Linked DNA regions of Homo sapiens. The protein of the gene in region 2 purifies or fractionates together with the protein of the main gene of each other region. This does not show direct contact. Each region holds a gene or a part of one and is shown on either strand. Other genes may lie near its edges.

Evidence for each region. The genes of interacting proteins can lie anywhere in the genome.
Region 1: the proteins of NEDD9 (region 2) and KLHL18 purify together in Homo sapiens (affinity purification with mass spectrometry; one large-scale study listed by BioGRID and IntAct). This does not show direct contact.

Annotation. Positions count from the first base shown.
Region 1 is NC_000003.12:47,327,944-47,331,443, reverse strand, and holds part of KLHL18 (kelch-like protein 18), read right to left. Parts: intron 1,494-3,500; coding exon 1,295-1,493; intron 1-1,294. UniProt on the Homo sapiens protein: Substrate-specific adapter of a BCR (BTB-CUL3-RBX1) E3 ubiquitin-protein ligase complex required for mitotic progression and cytokinesis.
Region 2 is NC_000006.12:11,187,669-11,191,168, forward strand, and holds part of NEDD9 (enhancer of filamentation 1), read right to left. Parts: coding exon 2,296-3,500; intron 640-2,295; coding exon 550-639; intron 1-549. UniProt on the Homo sapiens protein: Scaffolding protein which plays a central coordinating role for tyrosine-kinase-based signaling related to cell adhesion. As a focal adhesion protein, plays a role in embryonic fibroblast migration.

The DNA.
Region 1 (3,500 bases), on a different chromosome or scaffold from region 2:
AAAAAAAAAAAAAAAAAAGGCCTGGCATGATGGCTCATGCTTATAATCCCAGCACTTTGGGAGGCCAAGGTGAGAGGATCATGTGAGGCCAGAGTTCAAGACCAGCCTGGCCAACGTGGTGAAACCCCATCTCTACTAAAAATATAAAAATTAGCCAGGCATGGTAGCGGGCACCTGTAATCCCAGCTACTTGGGAGGCTGAAGCAGGAGAATTGCTTGAACCCGGGAGGCAGAGGTGCAGTGAGCTGAGATTGTTGCCACTGCACTCCAGCCTGCCTGGGCGTTGGAGCAAGATTCTTTCTCAAAAACAAACAAACAACAACCCCTCTTGATTTCACAGACCCCTCCCACAGCTGCCCCAATGTTCTGTTCTTCCTTAGAACAAGATTCTTTCAAAAAGTTATCTATACTAGGCCGGGCACAGTGGCTCACGCCTGTAAACCCAGCACTTTGGGAGGCCAAGATGGGCGGGTCACTTGAGGTCAGGAATTCGAGACCAGCCTCGCCAACATGGTGAAACCCCGTCTCTACTGAAAGTATAAAAATTAGCCTGGCATGGTGGTGCATGCCTGTAATCCCAGCTACTCAAGGAGGTTGATGCGGGAGAATTGCTTGAACCTGGGAGATGGAGGTTGCAGTGAGCCAAGATCGCACCACTGCACTCCAGCTTGGGTGACAGAATGAGACTCTGACTCAAAAAAACAACAAAAAAATTATCTATGCTTGCTGTTTCTGGTTCACAGGAGGATTATTTCTAATAGTAAATATTGGAAATAACCCAAACATGCAAGAATAAGGTGAGTAGGTTGACAAAAATCAACAGAATGCTATTTAGACACTAAAATGTATGGAGGCCAGGTGCGGTGGCTCACGCCTATAATCCCAGCACTTTGGGAGGCTGAACTCACTTAAGGACAGTAGTTCAAGACTAGCCTGGGCAACATGGTGAAACCCGGTCTCTACAAAAAATACAAAAACTAGCTGGGTGTGGTGGTATGTGCCTGTAGTTCCAGCTACTCGGGAGGCTGATGTGGGAGGATGAGGCTGCAGTAAGCTATGATCTTGCTACTGCACTCCAGCCTAGGTGACAGAGCAAGATATTATCTCAAAAAAATAAATAAAACATAGAAAGTTTTCATGAAAAATGCATGATACAGTAAAACAAGCCCAATAATATACAACAGCCACATACATGTCATGATCTTAACTTTGTAAAAAAATACATAAACAAAACAATGACTATAAAGAGCAGCATCTCATGTCACCTGCACAGACTGCTACTGGGCTCACATACCTGCTCCTCAGATTTGACATTCAGCTCATCCCGAGACACCAGCTCAAGCACGTCTTCCAAGGGCAGGGCCAGGAACTCTTCTGACATGGACACCTCCACAAAGTGCTGGTGGATGAAGCTGTTGGCAGCGTCGTACAGCACAGCACACATCATTGTCTCAGCAAACTGGCGCACACCCAGGCAGTTTTTTGGGTGAAGCCTTTGGCATAAGGAAAGAAAAAAAAAATTAGAGGAAGAAAGGATGTTATCTTTGATCATTCTCAGGCTGGTTCTGGGTAGAGCCACAGAATGAAAACAAATTCTTAACCTCAGCTTTGTTGGAAACTGTATTTCTCTGGGACTCAACTTCTAAAGGTATAAAATTAAGAAGAAAGATTATCCTCAAAGGTCCCTGCCTTTTGGGCCTGGTGCTCTGTGCGTCAGGTGGAATGAGCTCTCTGGGTAGTTCTGTAAAGTAACTGTCAGAAGGTGAGAAGTAACCATCACAGGAGTGCAGGCACTGAAAATCTGTTTGAGACGTTCCACCACTGAAATTCCTGGTTGAGTGTCCAGGGCATTATCTCAACTTTGGTCACAAGGAAGGCACTGAAGTCACAGAATTAGAGTTTAAAAAACACAGACAGGGCTGGACACGGTGGCTCACGCCTGTAATCCCAGCACTTTGGGAGGCTGAGGCAGGCAGATCACGAGGTCACGAGATCAAGACCATCCTGGCTGACACGGTGAAACCCCGTCTCTACTAAAAATACAAAAAATTAGCCGGGTGTGGTGGCGGGCGCCTGTAGTCCCAGCTACTTGGGAGGCTGAGGCAGGAGAATGCTGTGAACCCAGGAGGCGGAGCTTGCAGTGAGCCGAGACTGCGCCACTGCACTCCAGCCTGGGCGACAGAGCAAGACTCCGTCTCAAAACAAAAAACAAAAAACAAACAAAACAACAACAAAAAAAACACAACACGGACAGATGGCTTCTTTAGTATGGGAACTCTTATACTTGTCTTTTTTTTTCCTTTTTTTTCTTTTTTGAGACAGGGTCTCACTTTGTCCCCCAGGCTGGAGTGCAGTAGCGTGAACACGGCTCACATCACCCTTGACTTCCTGGGCTCAAGCGATCCTCCTGCCTCAGCCCTGCAAGTAGCTGGGACTACAGGTGCCACCATGCCTGGCTAATTTTTGTACTTTTTGTGGTAGAGACAGGGATTCACCATGTTGTCCAGGCAGGTTTGAACTCCTGAACTCCAGCAACCCACCTGCCTCGGCCTCCCAAAATGCTGAGATTTTTTCTTGTTTTAGATAGAAAGAGACTCCACGGGCCTAATTGTTCAGACAAGCAGAAACAACAGCAGCAGCTATCATTTATTTACCATCAGTGAGTCAAGTGTTTTGCTAGGCCTTTTATACACATTCTCCAGAATCTTCTTAACCTGTAAAGTAGTAACGCACTCACAGATGGAAAACAGGCTCAGGGAAACCAAAAATGGTGCTCACAGTCCCTTGAGATAAGCAAGTGGTGGTGCTGAGATTGAAATCAGGACTCTTGTGCACATTCCCACGGTAGCCTGGCAGACTTACACTCATCAGGGCTAGAGAAACCCAGGATAAATCCTGGCCCTGATGCTCATGGGGCAACTTGGGTGGGTTATGTTCTTCCAAGTGTCAGTAATTTGCTCACCTGAAAGAAGATGATGACAACAGCTACCCACCTCTTAGGGCTGAGCCATGATACATGGTACCTGGTATGAAGTTAATGGCTGTCTTAATTTTTTATTATGGTTGTTTTTGTTTTTTGAGACAAGGTCTTATTCTGTCACCTAGGCTGTAGTGTAGTGGTGCAATTATGGCTCATGATAGCCTTGACCTCTTGAGCTCAAGTGATCCTCCTACCTCAACCTGCCAAGTAGCTGAAACCACACACCTAGCTAATTAAAAAAAAAAAAAAAAAGTGTTTTTTGGTAGAGAAAGCATCTCCCTATGTTGCCCAGACTGGTCTCAAACTCCTAGGCTCGAGCAATCCTCCTGCCTTGGCCTCCCAAAGTGCTGGGATTACAGGCATGAGCCACTGTGCCCAGCTTGTTTTTCTTACTACTGTTGCATCTAAGAAAATTCCAAACGAGCCCAGTGCGATTCTAAAATCTTGGTGACAGCAGCAGACCCTGGGGGATTCTTATTTGGCTCCATGACTGATTCTCTGTAGGGATGGTATTGATCAG
Region 2 (3,500 bases):
AGCCATCTATAGAAGTTCTGAGTGGCCATTTATGGGTTCTGCAAAGTTACAGGGGAGCCAAATGAGTAGATAATTAGAGAAAACCAGAAAATAGGTGAGAGTGAAGTAGACTGATAGAAAGAAGCAAAGGAACTACAAGAAGGAGAGATAATTTACAGTTCTAGTTCTCCCCAGACCTGGCTCTATCTTCACTTTCTGTTACTGAATTCCCCTACTGTGGCTTTACTATAAACCTGCTTGCTTAGGCTAGCTTGAATGGGTCTTGTTTCTTGAGACCAAATGCCTTAACCCAAATAGTCCTCATATGTTAGATATGCAGGTTTAGCCTTTAAAAAAATTGCCGTTTAGATGGAACCCAGGTACACCCAGTTGAACTAACAAGGTCATAAACCTTCTCTTTGCTTTTAAACCCCATTCCGTGCTTTGGAGCTGATTCCTGCCAGTGAGCTGGAAGAATCAAAATCATAATCTCTTGAAGTGATACCTTTCCTTAGTGCTAGGTGGGAAATCTTTCCAATGCCAAGCAGTTTTTGCTCTGATTGAACTTACCTGATGATGTTCCAGCTGCATCTTGTTCTGTTTCATGATATTCTCTTTTTCCAATAGCTCTTTCTGTTGCCTCTCAAACTCCTCCTTACCCTGTTAATTTTCAACATAAAGAACATATTATGTCATCACTGTGATTCACTTATGCTAACAATTTCATTGACGGATGAGTAAATACTCTTTATTTTCCACTGCCTTGGCAACATCTCAAATGCCCAGTGAGGCACTGTGAACCCTAGACGACAGGGGTGGCAGAAAAATAAAGCCCATTGCCATATAGGGTGCCAGCTTTCTGGGGCACCTTAAAATTTTCGGAGAGCTACTCATGATTCCCTTCAAATCTCATATATAATGTTCTTTTTATAGTCTCTGGGTTCTTTTCTCATAGATTATATGTGAACCTGTAAACCCCCAAATGCAGGTCTAAATGTGGTCCACCTCTCACTTCTAGTTCCCTCAAATCATCTATAGATTTCTGCTCCAAGGCAGTAGTTCCCACTGTGCAGGGTCAGACAACCAGTAAGATGAATGTTCAATGCCTCCATCCTCTCTCTCTCCACTTCCTTCCTCAGCATCAGGTGGGGCTCAGTTCTCCTTGCCACACTTTCTTGCGCTTGAGGGAATTTGGCATAATAGTTACGTAGTTCTCAGTATAATCTGTGACTCTCAGTCAAATTAAAAGAATGGCAGAATAAGATAGTAAGCCTAGTCCTAAACAATGGATCTTGGTAGATTTTTTTTTTTTTTTCTGAGACAGAGTCTCGCTCTGTCGCCCAGGCTGGAGTCCAGTGGCACGATCTTAGCTCACTGCAACCTCCGCCTCCCAGGTTCAAGTGATTCTTCTGCCTCGGCCTCCCAAGTAGCTGGGACTACAGGCGTGCATCACCATGCCTGGCTAATTTTCGTACTTTTAGTAGAGATGGGGTTTCACCATATTGGCCAGGCTGGTCTTGAACTCCTGACCTTGTGATCCACCTGCTTCAGCCTCCCAAAGTGCTGGGATTACAGGCGTGAGCCACTGCGCCCAGCCAGTAGAATGTTTTAATCCCTCAAAGTGGAAGGGAAAGCTGTCGGAATCCCAGGTCAACTTGGAGCTTGGTAGAATTCCCAATTGTAGGAGGCCAACTGTGACTATCCAATGTCCCATACACAGATTAAGCTCCTAGGACAGCTAGCTAATGCCCAGTGGTCCTCTAGGTAAGTCTGAGATGGGGCTAAGTTTTAAAGCAATTATACACACACATACACAGAGTAGGGCTAGCAGGGGCCTTAGAAATTCTCTGGTGCAAAGGTCTTCTATTCTTTTTCTTAATGACGAAAACTTTTTTTTCAAATAAAATATTGCATGGAACTATACATAAAACACAAATAGAAGTGGAGCTGGTATTATTATTAGAGGGCCTATTATCCTACTTGGTGAGTCTCCTCTTACCTGAGGTATATCAACGGGATCTAATCCAACCCCTTACCCCATTCATTTTGCAAATGAGGAAATTAAGGCCCAAGGAGGTTGAATAAGTTGGTCACACAGTAAACGTCAGAGAAAGGGCTAGATCTGAGTGAGTACTCAGGACTCTCAGCCCAGCGTTCTTACTACTCTACGACACTCCCTCCAATTTGTGAACCATGTAGATTAACATTAATTATGTTCTCTCCTTTGGCAGTCCAACCCGACATCCTTATAGGCATCTTTCTCAGGCTCCCTGCATGTGAGTGAGTGTAGGTGTTTTATGAGTTCCGCTGTTTTACCTGTAGGTGGACGTAATCGTAGTCATCCATCCAGCTCCTCTCAGAACCATCACTGCTGCTACAGTCAGGGGCCTGCTCCTTGCTCAGGCCTGGGGGCAGTGCCTTGTTGTGGGCCTGGGCCTTGTGGTCACCAGGATGCAGCAGCTGTCCCTGGGAGCCACCGTGTGGGTACTCCGTTGAGTTCATGATGCTCTCCGGCCCATTCTTCAGATGCAAGCTGCCAGGGCCGGGTCTGAAGAGGGCCTCTGCGTTGGTGTTGATGGTTGTGGTGAGCTGCTTGGCGTCATCGGGCACCGTCTTTGCCACCATCACAAACCGGTCCAGATCGTCACACTTGTTCTGGGGCTTGTTGATGGCCAAGATATTCAGGGACCAGCTGCACTCATTTAAGTCATGGCTGGTTTGACTCAGGATCTGGTGGGAGTCTTCAACTCGTTGCAGCTCCCGCTTCATCTTGTTGTGGAGGATGAGTTCCGGGAGGCAGGCAGCATTTGCAACAGCTCCCTTGACAAAGTGGAGGTACTCCTTCAGGAACAGCTCCACCTTGTCCACTGCTGTGCGTATTTCATTGATGTGTCTTTCCATATATCCGTAACACCGCCAGTCGGTAGTGACCAGTGCCATTAGGCTGGAGACACCCATCTCAAGGGCCTGCTGGAGCCGCTGAAGTCTCTCAATAGCTGTGTCTGGATCCAGGAAGAGCCTTTTGTCCTGAGCTGGGGAGGCTGACAGTGAGGACTCCTTGGAGGAGGTGGAAGACGTGGACATGTTACTCCGGGTGCTGCCTGTACTGGAGAAAGACAATCGGTTGATCCCATCCACCAAGTCCCGAGAGCCTTTAGCATCTGGCGGGTTATGCAGAGGGACATCATAAACACCATCCCTTTCCTGGGGGTTTGCTTTCTCACTGGTTTCTGCTGGTGGCTCAAGAAACTGAACGCCTCGGGGGACATCATATGCGTCGTTCTGAGAGCCCACTGACTGTCCGAGTTGCGGGGGTGGGTGATTCGGGGACAGGCTCTGGTGCCTTCGAGCCACCGGTTCTGCAGCTCCTGGAATGTCACAGTTGTATTTTACATGAAGGTCCTTCCCTGCTGGCTTGGTGCAGGTTGGAGGAATGTCATAAACCCCCTCCGGTCTGAGGTCCGGCCTTCCAGCTTGTCTCATGGGAGGGGGGAAGTCATAGTCTTTTTCCCTAAGCCCTG